Homo sapiens: one gene and its partners. The protein of the gene in region 4 purifies or fractionates together with the protein of the main gene of each other region. This does not show direct contact. Each region holds a gene or a part of one and is shown on either strand. Other genes may lie near its edges.

Region 1 (5,380 bases), on a different chromosome or scaffold from region 4:
TTCCTTTTTCATAGTAGTCCTGTACTCACAGTCTTTTATCATTTAATGTTTACCAACAGGACAGTTTTTACCAAAGAAAGCCTATGATATTAAGGGGGAAAAAACAACCTGCCTTATATAATAGTAGCTGGAGGCAAAAAGAAAATCAAGTATTCAGTAGTAATAATGTAACACTGTTTTAAAGTCAGTGGAAAATAGAGAACTTAAGATCACTCCAATCATCTTTGTTTAAAAAAAAAAAAAAAAAAAACAAGGTCTCACTATGCTGCCCAGGCTGGAGTGCAGGAGCTATTCACAGGCATAATCATAGGGCACTGCAGCCTCTAATTCCTGAGCTCAAGGGATCCTCCTGCCTCAGCCTGCCAAGCAGTGGGACTACAGGCACATGCCACCACTCCTGGCTTCCAGTAATCTTTTTTAATTTTTAAAGTCAGAATATCAATTTGCAATTAGTATCAATGCCATGTGTTCAAGAACTATACAAGTTTCAAAATTATAAAAGCACTCTATAAAAAGGCAGTTATAATTTTTAAAAATTTTTCTTCATTCTTTCCATACTACCCTTCCTTCAAACTCCAACCAAATGCTACCTCTTCCAAGAACATGTGTGGATCCCTCTTGTTTTCTGAACCTCCACAGGTTTTGTCTGCACATCTCACTTTCTTCATCCTATTACATCCCTCTGCATCCATGTCTTAATTTCTCTATTGTTCTCAACTCTCAAAGAGCTTATAGTCTATGTTTGAGTCACTCTCATAAATCGCATAGCACCTTGCACATAATAAATTTTTTTAATTGCTGAAATCAATAAACACAAAATATTAAAAACACTTGATATATGCAAAAAGCACCTTTTGCAGAAGTCTGGAAAGCAAAGAATACTCATAGGATTAACCTATATAGGTCACCTTTGGCTTAGTAAGTAAATGAGATTCCTAAGGAAATATATATTTAATATTACCTGTTAGTACCAGTGCAGGGAACCACAAGAAAGCTGTACTGGCCCTGGGTTATCACTGCAGCACACCAGGCCATCACCATTCCCATTGCAGCATGAATAAATGAGTGCATGAGTTGCTGAGGATGAATGATCTTCCCTATCAGAGCTAGTCTGGAGCAAGGAATAGAAGGCACAACTGCAAAGGAAACACATTACTGTGGCTTTATAACCTACAGCATATGCAGTTAGAGGATCTAAACTATCCCCTCTCATCCTTGCACAAATGTTCCAAAGGCAGAGAGAAATCCACAGTCAACGCAAATACAATACAGAAAAATTTAAAGTTAAAAATTCTAAGTTAAAAAAATTTGAGGAAAGCATGAATAAACAGACACAAAAAAACCCAAAGAATCTAGAGATGAAACCTAAGGACAGCATGATCAACATTTTTCATTAAAATTTCCTAATAGTTCCAATAGTGCCTATCCTAGTATTCTCCTAAGCACCATAAAAGAATAATGATTTTTTTTTTCATATATGGACTACTGTAATGGTCTTGCAGTGTGGGAGAGTGACTGGGTTCAGCTCCTGAATACTGACTTTTTATTTATTTATTTATTTATTTTATTTTATTTTATTTTATTTATTTTTGAGACGGAGTTTCGCTCTTGTTGCCCAGGCTGGAGTGCAGTGGCGCAATCTTGGCTCACTGCAACCTCTGCCTCCTGGATTCAAGCGATTCTCCTGCCTCAGCCTCCCAAGTAGCTGGGATTACCGGTGCCTGCCACCATGCCTGGCTAGTTTTTGTATTTTTAGTAGAGATGGGGTTTCACCATGTTGGTCAGGCTGGTCTCAAACTCCTGACCTCAGGTGATCCACCCACCTTGGCCTCCCAAAGTGTTGGGATTACAGGCACGAGCCACCATGCCTGGCCTACTTTTTAAAAAGAACTCCTGCCATCAGCATTTGAAACTGTCAATATATAATCCACTTACGAAAAATAAACCATAAAGTAGGTAAATACTGACAACATAAATGCTAAGATAAATGCTTATATAGGGATTTTTAATACCCTTCAGACAATCCAAAAACATTTTCTGCAAATGAGCTAGGGAGGCAACTATGGGTAGGACATGAGGGATGTTTACCTTTGGAAACAGCTAGCCTAGGGTTCCCTGATCTATCTATGTAGGTATTTTGCTCTTACTATACTCAAAGTAAAGAGATGGCAGGAGGTAGAAAATTAAGTATGAAGGGACAAGTTTCAGGTGCTTTATACTTTGAGGAAGAGGTTCCTATGACCTCTCCCTCCCAACCAGAAATGCCCACAAGGTCCTACTGACTGTGCAACTAACTTATAACACTCTAAATATACCAAACCCTCTCATGTCACTAAGCCTTTTTATATGCTATACCTTCTCTCTAGAACATCATTTTCCTTCTTTGTCTACTTAATTCAACTCATCCTGCAAGGCTTGGTTTAAGGATCATCTCCTCAAGTTCCCCCATGCTGGGGCAAGTGGTGCTCCTATACAAGCTCTTACCATCCAATGTACTGTAATCAAATATGCTTCATGTTTACTGTCTCTCCATTAATCACGATCTCTGGAGAAAGATGGGACCTATCATTTCTCTTTTCTCTCCACACAATGCATGGCATATAGTAAATGCATAAGGGATGGTTACTGAAGGAATGAGCCAAAGTGAATAGTCAGGCTTTAAGAAGGACTGGCTGGGGACCCCTCAACTGACATATTACATACAGAAGATGACCCAAGCATATGGGAGAGTATGAAAGAACACTCTGTTTAAGTGTGGCTGTAAGCCAAGGAGTTTCGAATAGGGCTTGCATGGAAAAAGCTTACTAGTCAATAGTGAGGAATTAAGAAAGCAGGCTGAGTGCAGTGGCTCATGCCTGTAATCCCAGCACTTTGGGAGGCCAAGGTGGGCAGATCATGAGTTCAGGAGTTTGAGACCAGCCTGGCCAATATGGTGAAACCCCACCTCTACTAAAAATACAAAAAATAGACGGGCGAGGTGGCAGGCAACTGTAATCCCAGCTACTCAGGAGGTTGAGGCAGGAGAATCACTTGAACCCGGGAGGCAGAGGCGTCAGCGAGCCAAGACCATACCACTGCACTCCAGCCTGGGCAACAGAGTGAGACTCCATCTCAAAAAAAAAGAAAGAAAGCGAGGCTGGGCCCAGTGGCTCACACCTGTAATCACAGCACTTTGGGAGGTCAAGGCAAGCGGATCACTTGAGGTCGGGAGTTCGAGACCAGCCTGACCAACATGGTGAAACCCCGTCTCTACTAAAAATACAAAAATTAGCCAGGCATGGTGGCATACGCCTGTAATCCCAGCTACTCAGGCGGCTGAGGCAGGAGAATTGCTTGCACCTGGGAGGTGGAGGTTGCAGTGAGCCGAGATCGTGCCACTGCACTCCAGCCTGGGCGACAAAGCTGGACTCCATCTTGGAGACCAAAAACAGAAAGCAAGCAAGGGAAAAGGATACGTATTGTAACATCCAAAGTCAGAATTTGAAATTTTACGCCAGATTTTACAAGGAAGTGTTGAAGAACTAAAAAGGCAAATGATGTAGGCTGGGCGCGGTGGCTCATGCTTGTAATCCCAACACTTTGGAAGGCCGAGGCAGGCCGATCACCTGAGGTCAGGAGTTTGAGACCTGCCTGACCAACATGGAGAAATCCCATCTCTACTAAAAATAGAAAAAATTAGCCAGGTGTGGTGGTGCCTGCCTGTAATCCCAGCTACTCAGGAGGCTGAGGTAGGAGAATCGCTTGAAACCGGGAGGCAGAGGTTGCGGTGAGCCGAGATCACGCCATTGCACTCCAGCCTGGGCAACAAGAGTGAAACTCCGTCTCAAAAAAAAAAAATTCCTCCCGGTCTGAGTATTCTATGATCCTACCGCATCTGTTTCTCTCAAAAAAAATAATAAATAGGCCAAGCATGGTGGCTCATGCCTGTAATTCCAGCACTTTGGAAGGCCAAGGCAGGCCGATCACGAGGTGAGGAGATTGAGACCATCCTGGCTAACATGGTGAAACCCCGTCTCTACTAAAAATACAAAAACAAAATTAGCCAGGCATGGTGGCGGGTGCCTGTAGTCCCAGCTACTTGGGAGGCTGAGGCGGGAGAACGGCGTGAACCTAGGAGGCAGAGCTTGCAGTGAGCCGAAATCGCGCCACTGCACTCCAGCCTGGGCGACAGAGCAAGACTCCGTCTCAAAAATGATAATAATAATAAAATAAATAAATAAACAGAATATTCATATAATCAATGAAATGTAAAATCTAAAACATGACATTATGATAAACTAATTTAAGGTTTAGACATGTTAGCACATATGGAACATGTACATTTAAAAAATTTTTTTTAAGTTTAAAAAAAGGAAAATGGGCTGGGTGCAGTGGCTCACGCCTGTAATCCCAGCACTTGGGAGGCCGAGGGCAGATCACAAGGTCAAGAGATCAAGACCATCCTGGCCAACATGGTGAAACCCCCTCTCTTCTAAAAATACAAAAATTAGCCGGGCGTGGTGGCGCGTGCCTGTAATCCCAGCTACTCCGGAGGCTGAGGCAGGAGAATCACTTGAACCCAGGAGGCAGAGATTGCAGTAAGCTGAGATCGCACCACTGCACTCTAGCCTGGCGACAGAGCGAGACTCTGTCTCAAAAAAAAAAAAGGAAAATGATGTTATAGTAAAAAAATAAGAGTCAGGAAAAGCTTCTTATTGTATCTTTTTTTCCTTATGTGAATCTGCCACAACTTGTATCTTAAAGGCAGTCTCAAGGAATCTGAAAAGGCAGAAAGAATATGAAGAGAAACAGAAAAATTAAAAGCTCTGGAATCCAGCAGGTGATTCTCCAAGGCAAAACATAAGTTTTTTTTTAATCACAGTATTATAGATTATTATATTTGAAAAAAAAACTTAGAAATCACCTGGTCTTCCCTATAAAGGAATTCTTTTCATAATGTATCTGCTAAATCACAGCTTTAATACTAGTTATGAACTATTAAAAGGTCTAAATTTTTTTATTGTGGTAAAATAATAAAATTCACTATTCGAACCATTTTTAAGTACACAGTTCTGCGGCATAAGTACACTCATATTGTTGTATAACCACTACCACCATCCAGCTCCCAAACTTTTCCATCTTCCACAACTCTACCCATTAAACAGCAATTCTCCACTCCCCCTCCCCCAGCGCCTGGTAACCAGCATTCTACTTTCTTTCTCTATGAATTTGAGTACTCCAGATACCTCGTATAAGTAGAATCATATAATATTTGTCCTAAAAAGTCTAAAAATATTTTTAAAACAGAAACTAGCACCCAAATAAATTTTAAGGTACAACATTTGAAGCATATGATTCTGTATACGTTTTTAAATTTTTGACACAAAACACATTCACATAT
Region 2 (5,380 bases), on a different chromosome or scaffold from region 4:
CCTTCAAACAAAATAATTTAATTGAGGGAGATTCTCTTTCCTAGAGAGCATCTATCACCTGCAGTCAAAGAGAAATACTTTATAACCTTCCCTTCTAGTTCCTCTCCTCAGATTTGGGGGCTACACTGTTGCCTAATGGAGTGGCCAAAACCAAAGCATGAGTCTCACTTGGGCCTTCTCACATCATGCTGTAACTTGCAGAAATAACCAGGGGTGAGCGTTGAGTGTTGGTGCTCCCTCCTCCAAAGAGTAACCGGGAATTCACAAGAATAACTGTCTTTCCAGAGACAAACTCAGAAAAGGCTCACCAAGTGTGCAGTCCTAGTGTGCTCAAATCCATGAGCTGAGAATTGAGCAAGATGCCACTTTTATCTTGCCGCTTGGTTCTTTCATTTTTATAATAGGCAGTTATGTATGCCTTCTAATTCAGCAAAAGAATGAAATGTTGACAAAGGTTTTCTGAGATTGTTTTTAAAAAGAAAATAGCCTATAAATACAATTCATACTGGTGTCAGTTTCTTTATGAAAAGTATTTCCTATTAACAAAAAACACGGAAATCCAAGTTCCCCAACTGGTTTCCCTTAAAACCTCTGTTTTGTTTTAAAGTTACATAATAATAACCTCCCTTGGTTCTCTTTTGTTTTAAAACTTCCACCTATTTGCTCTCTTCTTTTGTCTTGACTACTAATAAAGAATCCTGGTTCAAGAATCTAGGAAAATGCTTGAAACAACTACAATAGGATTAACTCATAATATTATTAAATTTGAGAGTAGTAATTTGACCCATAATTAATTCGAATCTTCCTAACAACTACACAGAAAAAAAATCAGTTTGCTAACATGGCTGGTCTCATTATTGGCTTCCAGCTGCAGCCCCAAAGGTTTAATAAGGACATCTATTGACATTTTTAAAATATGCCAGCCACTCTATTAGAAGCTTGTATGTATTATCTCATTTAGTCCTCGAAAAAATTCTAAGAAGTAATTGTGAGGACTGTTATTGTTGTTCCCATTTTAGAGATGAAGAAACTAGGGCAAAGAGAAGCTGAGTAACTTGCCCAACATACATCATTCATCTAGTAAATTGGGAACTAGAGTTGAACCCCACACAGTCTGGCTCCAGAACCCATGGGACCACCACACCATCACTGGTACAGACTGCTATGGCCATTCAGCGGGCTCCTATATCTGTAAGCCACTGATCCCAAACACAAACTCAAACTCACATCTCTCATCATTTTCACTGCTTCCCTGGTCCTCCCGAGTCTTCTGGCACACATTGCTAGCCTTCTTTTGATGTACACCAAGACATTGGTGTCTCGTCCTGAAGAGGGAGATATAAAACACCAACATTTAAAAAAAAAAAAAATACAGAGGCCCATTTGCCTTGCCCCTAAAGGAAATTTTCATAGCACTGACAACTTTGTTAATAGTAGAATGAAGATCAAGTAAAGTAAAAGCACTTAGACTCCCAAAGGTCAAATCATCTGACTAATTACCTAATCCATGCTTTTGAGTGAGGATGTTGAATATTTGATAATAAATAAAATCATCTGCCACAAAGTGCTGCGAAAATGAACATACCCACAGTGTATACGGTTTACAAGCAGGAATTCCACATTCTTCAAGCGTGCATTCTTTTGGTAAAGATGCAGAGGTGAATCTCAGGTTACATCCTGATGAACTATTTTTTTTTCATTCTTGACATTAAGTCTGGAGAAGCCTCATCTTAAACTTCTGCTTTATATTATTCTTTCCCTAACACTAGTGACATCATAATCATCTCCAGGTCCCCTAAGCAGTTGATTTTAGATGGCAATATAACACATTCCAGATATGACAATAGAGTATGCAACAAAATGAAAAACTACCCTAGTGTTAGAGAAAGAATTGACAAGCTAAATAGTTGTAACAACAATCACTAAAATGACTCTTAAAAAGTACGTTAACAATTTCTAATCTTAATCTTTTATTTAATTATATGTCTTGTTGGATATGTTTTCAGACCAATGAGAACATGCATGTGCTTAATCCTCGATAAAAATTACCATGTTTGAGAAAATATGACACACCTGTTATAGATTAAGTACATGTATAATATGCAGCTATTAAAAGATGTTAAGACCAAAGTCCTAACATTTCAAGACTTAAACAATGAGAACAAGATGTGTGCTGAAAATCTGCCAAGTACCTACAAATTATTTTAAAAATGTGATTATATTTTTGGATGGATTTAGGCAACAGGTTGAAAAGATTTAATTTAGAGAAGAAAAGAAAGAAAATTAATGTTGTATTATAGGTTATGTAATTTTATGTATTGATTTCCATTTAGTTCACAAAATACACATTTACTACATGTCTTCAAAATGCACTGCATTACACTAAAATACTTTTTTATTAAAAAGTGAGACATAGATGGTGATTAGAGACTTTATTAGCATATATATGCTGCAGAATAAAAATAAAAACTTAGGAATTGATGTGGTACATGTGAGGACATACTCATGTATATGCAGGCTATAATGCAAAGATTTTGCTGGCACCTTAGTTATGGGGACTAATGCAGTCAGTTTCTACACCAAACCCAAGTTTAACGTTAACATTTAATTTTATAATCTCAAATATGAAGGAGATACATCCCTACTCTCTAAGTTTCAGGAGGGAGAAACTAAGTGAGAAACAAAATAACTTTGTGAATTTTGGTTGGACCATGGAAATACTCTCAAATTTTGGTTGGACCATGGAAATACTTAACTCTCTTACCACAAGGACTGCTAAATTTCTGCTTCAACAACAAACAAACTGATGAGTCGAGGGGCTCAGGGAATTCCAGAAATGATTTCGTTGTTTTGTTTCTATACTGTTCCCCCACGAAATGTCATTGGCTTTCAGTTTAGTATACTGAAGTGAAAGGTCTCAGATTTTAAAGAGTTATCTTAAATTTAAAAAGGCGTTTTTTGGGGAGTTTAAAAAGGCATTATTTTAATATAAAAAAGATAAATAACTAGGAGCTCATGGCTCTTTCTCTCTGGAAGCCAATACCAATGTTTCTTATGTAAGAGATAAATGCTGATACAATCACCAATAACTTATATTCTTAATTGTCCTATTTCAATCCATGTTGTAGAAGATCTATAAGATAAAACCTTTGCTAACACTATGGCTAATTTAAATCCTGTTTCCCATCTGGGTTTTAAAGTTGTGAGCAGAAGCAACTGATGAACAGAAATATGTAAGAACTCAGGAGGAAAAAAGGTTACTATTAAAGGTTACTGCCATTTATTTCTGCGGTTAGGAATCTATGGGCAGGAAAGAGAATGTGAATATAAACAGCAATGAAGCTGTAAGTTAATTATTTACTAACTGCACTTATAGGAAAGAAGAAAATTAATAAAAACAAAGCAAAAGCCAATATTTTCTCTTGTCTAGGAGAATCATATTTTGAACTGGACTAAAAATTTGCTCTGATTAATAATTTTTACAATTCTGATCCCCCAATGCATCAACCTGCAGGAAACCTTACTATGTTGGGCTTCATACTGGGATCCATGATGTTGTAGCTGCTGAGAGCGTCGGTAACAGCCATCTCCAGCCTTCAGGGCCTGCTTAAATAATTTTTCTGCTTCAGCAATGGTTGTTGCTTCCTCTTCAGCCAAGAGAATATAAGCAGTTGCACACCTGTTCATTCAGATAATAGCCACCATCAATTACAAAGCCAAGGACATGGTAATAGACTGTAGGAGCTCATGCAGAAAGGCAAGGAGTTACGCCAAAACATGCAGAGTGGCCAACTGGTTCATGCACTCCTGTTTGTAGTTGCTGACACAAAATAATGGTACAAAAGAAACATCTGTATTTTAGCTTGAGAGGTAGGATGCGTAGTGTTAAGAGCATGGGGCTCACATGTGGACTTCACCCTTTATATTAGTGTGTCACTTTGGGCAAGTTCTTACTCTGCCTCCCTGATGGAGAACAACATGGAATCTTTGTTCACAGTGTTGTTGTGAAGGTTAAGTAAGGTGATGCATGTAAAGTGCTCAGTACAGTAGCCAGCATGTGGTTAAGTGCTCAATAAATGTCAGCTAGTGATGGTGATGATAACAGCTGTTATTAAATAGTTCCTTCCAACACTCAAAGTTAGAGGTGCTATATACAGGTTTACTTCTGTTAACTAAACACAGATTATCTTCAATCTAAGGATTTCTTCAGAATAAGAAATTCGTTAAATCAAGTTACTCACTGAAAAAAAACACAGTGCTTCAACATCTCTTTACAGTTAGCACTGACTTTCTGCTTCAGAGAACACTGGAAGAACCTACAAGTAGTGTTATTTCTGAAGAACTCAAAATCTGACTCAGCCACAGTAGCTAACAAGTTAAATCTCATGCCTTCAACAACAATAGCTACCACTTGTTGCTTAGTATATATTAAGCACTGTACCAGGCACTTAACATATATCATCTCATATAATCTTTTCAACAACCCTCTTAGGTGGGAAGCCAAAAGGATAATTAATGAACATGGGGAGTTCTTGTGAATTTAAACCTTCCAAAGCATATGAGGAACAACCCACTGCCAAAGAAAGGGAATGTAATAGGGAAGTGGTGAGGCTGTAACAGACCACGCAGGTCCTGCACCCATCCTTTCACTCTCCTTCCCCACTGCCTCACTTGTGGCCATTTCCCTACTTATTTCCATCAGACCACAAGAGAGAAAATAAACAGAAAGTAAAACCAAATGTTACTTTTACTGTCCACAAACTGCAATAGCCAGCTAGGAAAAGGAGGCTGAACTTCACAGCTAATGTAAGGGCTGGGGCTACTAGTTAATCTTAGCCTTAGGAAGGGTCTGTAAGGTCTTTAGCCAGTCTCTCTAATTTCAGGCAGGAACCATCAATGGGGCTTTAAACAATGTGGTGAGGTAGGGAGAAAAATGCCCAGAAAAACAGCTATAAAACCAATTTCTACAGATGGCAGCATCCATGACTTGGAAAGAACCATAATGATGCTGAAACTATACAAGTGATTCACTGGAGAAAATAACTGGGACAGGCATCAGAAGAAATGCTTAAGGCTTCAGATGCCAACATATAAATATGAGGCAAGGGTAATGAAGTGAAAATTGAGATTGTAATACTGAGTGGTAGATACAGTATCAGAGGAATTAGCTATAAGATTGTAGTTGTTGGGCTGGGAACCCAAGAATGGTTGGGGCTAGCTTGCTTGCTTTGCTTATTTATATTTCAAATGGTATTCTTAGGAGGAGAGGCAGAGTAGCACTACTGGCCAAGAAACATACATCTATGTGGAAACGCATGAGTTTGGGATAGAAACATGCTAAGAGCTTGTGAGTGAAGGAAAAAGGAGAGAGCAATAGAAG
Region 3 (5,380 bases), on a different chromosome or scaffold from region 4:
GCTCTGGCCCCATAGTCAACCAATCCTTCTTAGCTGGTAATAATAGGCTTTGAAGGGTTGTGATGAAGAAAGCAGCAACCATTTGCTCTCTACCTCCACTGAGGACAGAGGACAGGGCTCTGATAGCAGTGGGAGGGACACCAGGTAGATTCTAGAAAGAACTTCCTAAGAAATGTTTCTGTCTTGGAATGATCAAATTAAACAGGTGGCCAGAGGAAGCTCTAGCACCTTTTCCCACTGGCTAGTTGTGAACAAGAGTCCAGTTACCTAGCCAAGAGCTTACTTTACTGGTTACCTTTGGGAAGGGATATTAAATTATTTTAATTATTTTTGTGGCTCCTTGTGGAGCAGGGCGACCCCATAGGCAGTGTGCCCAGAGTAGCTTACATTACTTTTAAGTGATTCGTAGTTCTGATTCTTTTTCTCTTGAAGGCACTGCTGTTTAGAGTATCCCACATCTAAACCAGTCCAGTCTAGAGACAGTGCAGAATTTATGGAGAGAGAATGGAATGAGGTCAGAGTGTGGGACTGCATCCCAGCTCTGTTATAAGGCCTTGGGCAGGTCCCTTCCTGCCTCTGGGCTTCAATTTCTCCATCAGTAAAACAAGGAGGCTGGCCCAGATCAACTCTAAGCCCTCTACTGGCTATGACATTCTCTAATTTTAGGGTTTCTCCAAGATCTCATCCTCCCACCGCTGTATTCATTCCTTGGGTAGTGCAGATGGCTCAGAGCTCGGGGCAGAGATCAGGTTCCGATCTGGGATTTGCTGCTTTGCCAGCTGGGTGACCTTGGGCAGCTCCTGTTTCTTCCTTGAGTCTCAGTTCCCTCATCTGTAAAAAGGCTGACATCATCCTCCTCACAGGTTAAGATGAGAAAATGGGCCCGGGACTCGGCAAGCCCTTGCTGAACGGTAGCGGTAGCTATTTTTTTAGCCCATAGTACAGTGTATGCACATGTGTGTATCTTGATGTAGTGCAGCAACTGGGGAGAGAGAAGTTTCCATGAGATCGTTACCCTGGGCTGGGCTCAGTTCATGGGTATGGCAGTCCCAAACTGGAGTTAAACCCTCTGTCTCAGCCTGCACTGGGACCTATCAGAATCCAGAGGTCAGCTAAGGCTGGGTGGTGTCTGGAATTGAGACCAAGAGTTCTGGAGGGGCAGAGTGAAAAGGATGTCAGCCACTTTTCCTGTGTCCCTCCTGGCTTCGTTGTGCTTGTAAATCTCCAGAGCAGCACTGGCCAGCTGGAAGAAAGCTGGGAGCGAGGGGGAGCCATATGTTCCACACGCCCACTGCAGGTCCCATCCCTGGGCCCCAAAGTAAAGGCGCCACCAGACAGCCAATGGTATGGCAAGAAGAGGGGAATCTTTATTTTGGTTAAAAAAAAAAAAGGTACAGGATAGCAGACAAGCAGCCCCCAGCCCTGGGCTCAGCTGATTTTCCTTGGCTCAGCTCTTTCCTTTAGTCCCCTGAAGTGTATGGGGCTGTGCACGGCTAGCTTGGTCCCTCAGTGCCTAGAGCAAAGGAGGCACGCACCCTCCCTACATCCTACCTACTCTGGTGGAGGGTTGGGGGTGGGAGGTGGACAGGCCGTGGGAACAGTATCAAGCCAGTTGTGCTTAGAACAGTCACCAAACTTGTTCAGCAGCGTCATCCACCATCAACACCCCAGACAGCTCCTGAGGAAACCTGCTGGGCTTGACTATGGCTATGCCTGATCTGAGGGGGTGGAGGGGCAGGCTCTAAGGCCAGATTCCTAGTCTTGACACCTCACAAATCCGGGAAGGGGAAGTCAGTGGAGGAGAGAGGGAGCATATCAGCGTAGAGTCACATTATTGTGCTGATGGCTGCGTTATGGCTTTCTACACTCTGGCCGGCATGGAGCGGGAATGGGGCAAAGAGGCCAGCCCCTGCCCCCTATGGGGGTCCTAGAGAGCACACAGGCCGGGCAGGCTGGGGGGCAGACCCTGTAGGCACAGATGGTGGCAGATGGGCCACAGGTTAGGCAGGTGGAGGTGCCGGGTGCCTGGCTCCCCCCAGGCCATTCCTGGAGAGGCAGAGAGCAGCGGTCCTCAGGAGGTCCTTAAGCCCCCGCACACACTGGAGATCCCCGGCAGGACAGCAAAGAAGGAGAAGAGAGAGGGTTAGCAGGCCTGGGAGGAGGGAGGCGGCCTGCAGGGGCCCCGGTGGTGGGGAGAGGTGCTGCCACAGCACCTGCCTCTGCCCGAGAGAAGGGCCAAGGCTTAGGCAGCAGGCAATGAAGCAGGAGAGAAAACGGGCGGGTGAGAGAAAGCTCAGCGGGGACAGAAAGCCAGGACATAAGAGTGTTAGTGACCGGTGGCCCCTGCATACCAGGACCCCACCAGCACAGACCCAAGCACCTCAGGGCAGGTTCGCCATCCTCTCCCCAGCCTCACCCTCCACCTCCTCTTCCAGCTGGAGAGCTGCTCTGCGAGAAGCTACTTCCTCAGTCCACAATGGGGCTGGGCTTTTAGCCTTGCCCTATATCCCGATCCTTCTGCTTAGCGGGGAGTCCCTGGAGACCCTACCACCACCAGCACACACACCGCACCACACACCAGACAGATGGACGGGCTCCATGGGGTTGGCGAGGCATGCGATGAGGATGAGATGGTGTGTGAGGGGAGCGGGCAGTGCTGGCCGACAGGGAAGAAACGGTCTTACCAGCTAACCCTCTGCAAAGAGGCCTGTTAGCTCCCCTCAGGCTGTGCAGGAGATGGCAAAATCCTGACAGGTGTCCTCCTGAGGGAGATACCAGAGAGGTGGGCCAGTGTTATGAGTTGTCTGGCTGGGCCCTGGTGCCCAGGTTGGAGGTGGTAGCCAGGGAAGCTCCGGCTCTCAAACTGGAATCTACTGTCTCAAACATTTTCTTAGCTGGGCACTCATTGGGGATCGGAGTGGAAAGGCAGTAGGGAAGAAGAATTTGGGGGTCTCCAAGCCCCTGAGGCAGGGGAAGGTGGAGGGGACAAAGAGGGGACAGGATGGCCTCTTTTCACGTGCCCATGGGGGCTCAGCCGCAGCCCTCTCTGCTCTTCCTCCAGCGGACAGAGCTCCAGCCAGGTGAGGGAAAATGTAGCCAGATCACTGGGCTGCCTGCCTTCTCACAGTCTCCCCAGGAAAGAACCAAATTTGTCTGAAAGAACAGAGGGCTCCCAGTTGGGGCCTCAGCAAAGGAAAAGCAAACAAAAACCAAACCAAAGCAAAGCAACTCTTATAAACTGAAGTTTTATTACAAGCAGGAACAAAGAATACTGGCTTAAATAAAAGGTAGGTGGGAGCCCCCTCCTCTAGCCAGCTTCTTCCTCACCTCCCAGGGCCACTGCAGTGATGGCCCAGGGCCCTGAGGCTGGGGTGAAGCTGTTTCTCCCAGAGGGGACCCTCTGTGGCTGCCATTCCCAGCTGTCTGTGACCACTAGCCTCTGGAGTGAGAAGGGCAAGATCTGGGGACTTCCTATGTCACTTTCCAAGGGCTTCAGCCCACTTGAAGGGCCAAGGAGGGGGATGGTGGAACAATATCTATTTTGATAAGAAACTACAGCTCCCAGCAGAGGAGAAACATCCTCTGAGTTTCCGGCCCAGACTCAGGCCAACCTTCACTTGCCTCTTGGCCCACCCTGCACCTTCTTCCTTTTCTCTGGATGGAGGTCCCCGTTTGGCAGAAACACCTTGTCTTCCAGCTCCTGGCACTGGGTCCCATATTCAGAGCTCAGAGGAGGGGGTGTGGCTTGTAGGATGGCAGCCGCTCCCCAGAGCCATCACCCCACCCACCACGCCCAGGCTCAGCCTGTCTGGGCAGGTCCCAGCTGGAAGCCTCACCTGGGGGCTGGTGGGTAGGGCTGGGGGTAGAGTGGCAGAGTCCCCAGACACTGGCTGTCTGAAGTCCATAGAAGAAGGAAAGATAGGAGGCTGGGCTGAGCCCCAGTGGGAGCCCAGGGTTTTCTCGTGACCAGTGCACGTGCCCCCTGTCCCCTTGGCTCAGAGTGCTTCTGACACTCAAAGGGGATGGGGCAGGGGGCAGCCCAGGGGATATGGGAGCCAGCCACATTCATACAGGGCACACATGAACACACACACACATGCACACACACTCTCACTCATTCCAGCCAGAAGGTCTCTTGGAATAAACTTATTAAAACCAACCAGCCTTCTGATAACCCTTCACCTGGCACTACACAGACAGTAATGTGGCTGACATTTTCTCCTTCCATTTAAAAAAGACTATGTAGAAAAGAGGTCTATAAAATTGTGCAAAATACCCAGCATTAATAAACCCGTTTCAAGTATTGCCAGCATGAGCATAACCCACCCATGCCGGGACCTGGCTTGGGAGAGAAGTGGAGGGGCAGGCTGGGATCCCTTAAAGAGCTCTCCATGGGCAGGGGAAGGACCAGGCTCCCACTTCCACTGTGCTGCCCAGGAACTGCACAGGAGCTGAGGCTGTGGGTGCCTGGCTGGCTGATTTACCTTTGTCTGATACAGGCTGCCCCCACCCACCACCAACCCTGCCTTCTCTACTGGAGCCCCAACTCAATCCTATTGGCCAACTCCATAAAAAAGGGGGGAAAACCCCACCAAAAATCCCACAGAATAAAGGGAAATTATCACCAAGGGAATGAAGGAGCCCACAGACCAAAGCAGCCCATGGAGGCTTCCTCTCCACAGCCAGCTATCCAGAGCTGGCCACTCCTCAGTCCTGCTTCACCCTGAGGACCCTGGCTCAGCAAGGCCCAAGCAGTTCCCCCACCTGGGAGGCCTCACGCTCAGTTCACAGCCTCACTCACACAGGGCTCGCCCGGCACAGGCAAGGACTTGGTGTGGTCCCCTGGGTAGCCTCCAGAGGCTCTGGTCTCTCCTGGCACTGATCAGCTGGGGTACCTAGGGCCCAAGGCTGTGGGAACCTGGGTTTGGGGAGCAGAGGGCACAGCCACGGAACAGTTCAGGGAAAGCCACGCAGGATGGGAAATAAATATGAAAAGACTTGAGTCTTTGGCAGTTCTGCTTCCCTTGGATGGAATAGGGAGGGTCCCGGCAGGTGAGTGCGGAGGGTCAGACAGGCCAGCAGGTGGCAAGTACTGAGCCGTGGTCAGGGGTGGCCTCCTACCATGCTGGCATCAGGCTTGGCTCTGCAGGCTGGCTCATCGCTTCTGATGGGTGAGGGCAACACGGTGTCGGACTGCACAAATCCCCTCCGGTCAATTAGGCTTCCAAAACACAAGGGAGACACATGAGGGCTCTGCCCAACACTGAGGCTCTAGGCCAGGGGTTGGACGGCAGAGTCTATCTCAGCCAAGGAAAGGCCCAGGCTGAGAAAGGCTGAGGAAAGGAGAGCTGCTGCCCATCTGGGGGCCCAAGACTCTTAC
Region 4 (4,062 bases):
GAGTGAGGTTTTGCCAAACAACAGAAGGCTAAATCTGGCTTCTTTGTACTTAGGGCTACTGATCGCTGTTGGAGGAAACTTTGGCAGATGCAATTCCTCCCTTCCTGGTCTTTAATCTAGGTTAAATATCACCACCTCGTCCCACCTCCACCACCAGGACAAAGAGTTATGCTACTATTATAAATTGTACTCTCCTGTCCACTATTCCTTTCCAAAAACAAATCACATGACATTACAGAAGCTTAATTGCAAAGTACGTGAGGTGCTAATATCGATGTATAGCATATTCAAAGTATATGTAGCTAATATCTATATATAAATTCTCTGTGTAAGATTCAGGCCTAAATAAATAAATGAATAAACAAATGAATGAATAAATAAATAAATAAAACCATATTAGCAGTTTGGGGGTTCTGAATGTATTTAAATGATCATTGTGAGGCAAAGATTCTGACTTGCCTACCAAGATAACCATTCTTGCCTACAATCCCAGCATTTTGGGAGGCCGAGGCAGGCGGATCACCTGAGGTCAGGAGTTCAAGACCAGCCTGGGCACATGGTGAAACCCCATCTCTACTAAAAAAAAAATACAAAAATTAGCCGGGTATGGTGGCACGCACCTGTAATCCCAGCTACTGGGGAGGCCAAGGCACAAGAATTGCTTGAACCCAGGAGGCGAAGGTTGCAGTGAGCCGAGATAGTGCCACTGCACTCCAGCCTCGGCAACAGAGTGAGACTCCGTCTCTAAAGCGAAACAAAACAAAACAAAACAAAACCCAAATAACCATTCTTCCTTTTTCTTGCCAATTAGCGTGAACCCAGTATTTAGCTGAGAATATAGCTACCCAGCCAAACAACTACATTTCCAGCCTCTTTTGCTCATGACATCATGTGACTGAGGTCTTGCCAATGAGATATAAGAAGAATCGAGTGGGACTTCTGGGAAGTCTCCTTGAACAGGAAGGGTGTGTGCTTCTCTGCCCTTTCCTCTATTTTATCAGAAACATGGATGTGATGGCTGAAGATGTAATCAGCACTGGGATGTTGGGGATAAGGGTGAGAAGGGTCACATCCTACTAATGGTAGAGAAATAGAAGAAGCCTGGGACCTGGATTACTTCACAGGGTCCCAGGATGGTCTGCCTCCAGACTTCTTCTGCACAAGAAAGAAATACACTTCTATCTTGTTTAAGCCACTGATATTTTAGGGTTTTAATTCTATGCAGCTAAATCTAAATCTAAATGATACACACAAATCTTTACCTTCTGCTACACTGTGGTAGTCCAGCTTCCTAAATGTCTCACTCCATCCCTGTCTATTATCTTGGTGGATTTGGTTACCCCGAGGTTCTTTATTCTCCCTGACACATTTAGTCACATACTCCCCTCAGTTCCAGGCACCAGTAACACTTCCAGGCTCCCAAAACGACACACAGCAGAGTTCCATTGTCCTAAATAAATGGTGATTTTAGGGCAGGGAATCAAAAAGAGTTTGTCCATTGGGTGAACTGCTTTGGCACAATTGCTTGTCTGCTCCATGCCCTCCTGGAACCCTCAAGATGGTAAAACTGATCAGTATGGACTCTGATTTCCCAGAAGAACTGCGGAGAGTAGGGGGTAATTTAAAGAAATAATCTGCTGGAATTTTAAGATGATATATAGGCTACTGGGGCCAGAGGAGGGAGTAAGTTGTTGGGAGTTTAGACCGTGGAGGTTTCTACTTCTTGGATGGGGTCCTTGTTGGAGAGAGTGCTTGAGATATTGTCGGATTCAAGCAACTCCACAATGCTGTAGGGAGAACAGTCCTCCAGACCCAGCTTGCTGCAGAGCCAGCCACAGAAGCCTTTCTCCATGTCCCGGGCAGCTTGCCACCATGCTTCCCAGGACCACGAGAGCTGGACCACAGCAGCGTAGAGGCCGAGGGAAGAAGCCATGGCCATGATGAGCACTGGATAGAAGAGAACGAGGCAAGGGCAATACGAGATCTTGTGCCAGAAGGTCCTTTCCTCATTATACACGAGGAAGATGTTGTACCAGGTGATAGTGCCGTAGTAGAAAGAGACAACAAAAGAAAGGATGAAAACCACAGGCAGGCAGATCAGCGTCCAGAGGACCACATGGGGCCCACGGTCAGCTCCCATCTGGCAGGCCATTCTTCCTTCAGGCGTCGTTTCCCTTGATGACTCTTTAGGTTTGGTCAGTTCCTGCAGCTCTTTCTCTGTCAATGTGACATGGATGTCCACCATCTGACCCTTTTTCTTCCCTCGTGTGATGGTCCCAGTTAAGGTGACGTAGCGGCTGTCCAGAGGCAGGTTCCACATATCTGCAGGGTACAAAGGAGGTGAGAGTCAAGATCAGAAGAGTGGGCATTGCATCTCCATGTTGCACCCTCCCAGGCTGGGCATGAGGACAAGAGTAGCCTTTTTTACACCATCTGGCACAGTCCTGAGTCAGTGATTCAATGGCGGACTGAGTGGGTCTCCCTCGGGAGAGTGACCACTGGTGTTATTGCTCCCACATGAACTCTCAGTCCTTGTGCCTGGGCCCTGATAAAATTGTGAGGCAGGTTAAGCTTTTCACCTACTCTCTCCGCTTTTTGGGGCCTCAATCTTGGCACAATCTCTGTGGCACGGAGGAGTGTGACGAACTTTGATACAGACATGATGCAAATGATGATCCTATTTCTAGGTAACAAGTGCTGTGAAGATACTGGACTGATGGACGGCCACCACCTTCCCTTCTCATGCCTAGTTCTGTGCTTTCTGAGAGGGGGCCCCTCACATGCCTGATCCAGCCCTCACATCCAGGGGCTGCACGCATACACACATGCATCCCACATATACCATACACATACACCCTCTCACATACTACATACACACCATACACACACATACACATGCCACCTCCCAATCACGTACCACATACACACACTACACTATCCCATACACACACCACACACCACACACCATGCACATCACACATACCACATACACACCACATACCCACACCACATATACCAAACACCATACATAACACATACACCACACACATGCCACACACAACCTCCCCACACATACCACATACAACACATACACATACCATATACACACCACATACCCATACATATCACACATACATGCAACATACACACATAACACACCACACACACACATACACATCACACACACCACACATACACACAGCATACATGCACACAAATGCTGCCCCCCACACATTCCACATATATACACTACACATACCCACCCACATGCCGTATGCACACACCACATATATACACATTCTACACACACACCACATACCCATACATACCACACTACACATACCACATACATACCACGCACACATACGTACACCATATACTCCCCCATACCATACCACCCACGCCTATCCACACACACACCACACATTACACACACACACCATACGACACACACAAACAGCGCACACACCCCCACATACACCACACCCACACCGCACACCACACATACACACACACACACACACACAACGCACCCACACAGAACCAAATAGCTATCTGCTGGCCACCCTAGAAGTCTGGGTGGGGATGGGAAAATACAGCCTTTAGGCAGGCATGGACCTTGGGCCCTGTGGACTCCTTGCCCCACAACTGAGAGATAAGATGAAGCCACCTAAAGAGCAGGGCCCTGGATAGTGGCAGGGACTCTGTTTACCCAGAGAAAAGGAATGTGCAGTCTCCCAAGCCCTGTCTTTTCACAGTCTTCATCACAGCAAACACCACCACCATCTATCCTCCCTGTCATTCCAGTCAATCACCCAGGAGTCATTATTGATTCCTCTCTTTCCCTCACTCCCTGCCTCTGATCAATCAGCAAGTTCAGATTGCATCCTGAATCCAGCTTCTCTTCTCCAGCTTTCTCCTGCTATCACCCGAACTTCTCCATTAGTGCTACTGAGGCTGCAGGGACACAATAGTCTCCCATCAGCATCCAGTCTTAACCCTTATAATTCATTCTTTATAGAGAAGCCAGAGTGATCTTTTACAAATATAAACAAGATGATG

The links.
Region 1: the proteins of TMEM169 (region 4) and NDC1 purify together in Homo sapiens (co-immunoprecipitation; 2 studies listed by BioGRID and IntAct, with this or other methods). This does not show direct contact.
Region 2: the proteins of TMEM169 (region 4) and ST7 purify together in Homo sapiens (co-immunoprecipitation; 2 studies listed by BioGRID and IntAct, with this or other methods). This does not show direct contact.
Region 3: the proteins of TMEM169 (region 4) and ZDHHC18 purify together in Homo sapiens (co-immunoprecipitation; 2 studies listed by BioGRID and IntAct, with this or other methods). This does not show direct contact.

The regions. Positions count from the first base shown.
Region 1 is NC_000001.11:53,827,038-53,832,417, forward strand, and holds part of NDC1 (nucleoporin NDC1), read right to left. Parts: intron 1,137-5,380; coding exon 962-1,136; intron 1-961. UniProt on the Homo sapiens protein: Component of the nuclear pore complex (NPC), which plays a key role in de novo assembly and insertion of NPC in the nuclear envelope.
Region 2 is NC_000007.14:117,134,380-117,139,759, reverse strand, and holds part of ST7 (suppressor of tumorigenicity 7 protein), read right to left. Parts: intron 3,680-5,380; coding exon 3,525-3,679; intron 1,326-3,524; coding exon 1,228-1,325; intron 1-1,227. UniProt on the Homo sapiens protein: May act as a tumor suppressor.
Region 3 is NC_000001.11:26,853,567-26,858,946, reverse strand, and holds the end of ZDHHC18 (palmitoyltransferase ZDHHC18), read right to left. Parts: intron 5,222-5,380; coding exon 5,104-5,221; 3' UTR 1,343-5,103; downstream 1-1,342. UniProt on the Homo sapiens protein: Palmitoyltransferase that catalyzes the addition of palmitate onto various protein substrates, such as CGAS, HRAS and LCK. Acts as a negative regulator of the cGAS-STING pathway be mediating palmitoylation and inactivation of CGAS.
Region 4 is NC_000002.12:216,098,180-216,102,241, reverse strand, and holds part of TMEM169 (transmembrane protein 169), read right to left. Parts: intron 2,323-4,062; coding exon 1,700-2,322; 3' UTR 1-1,699.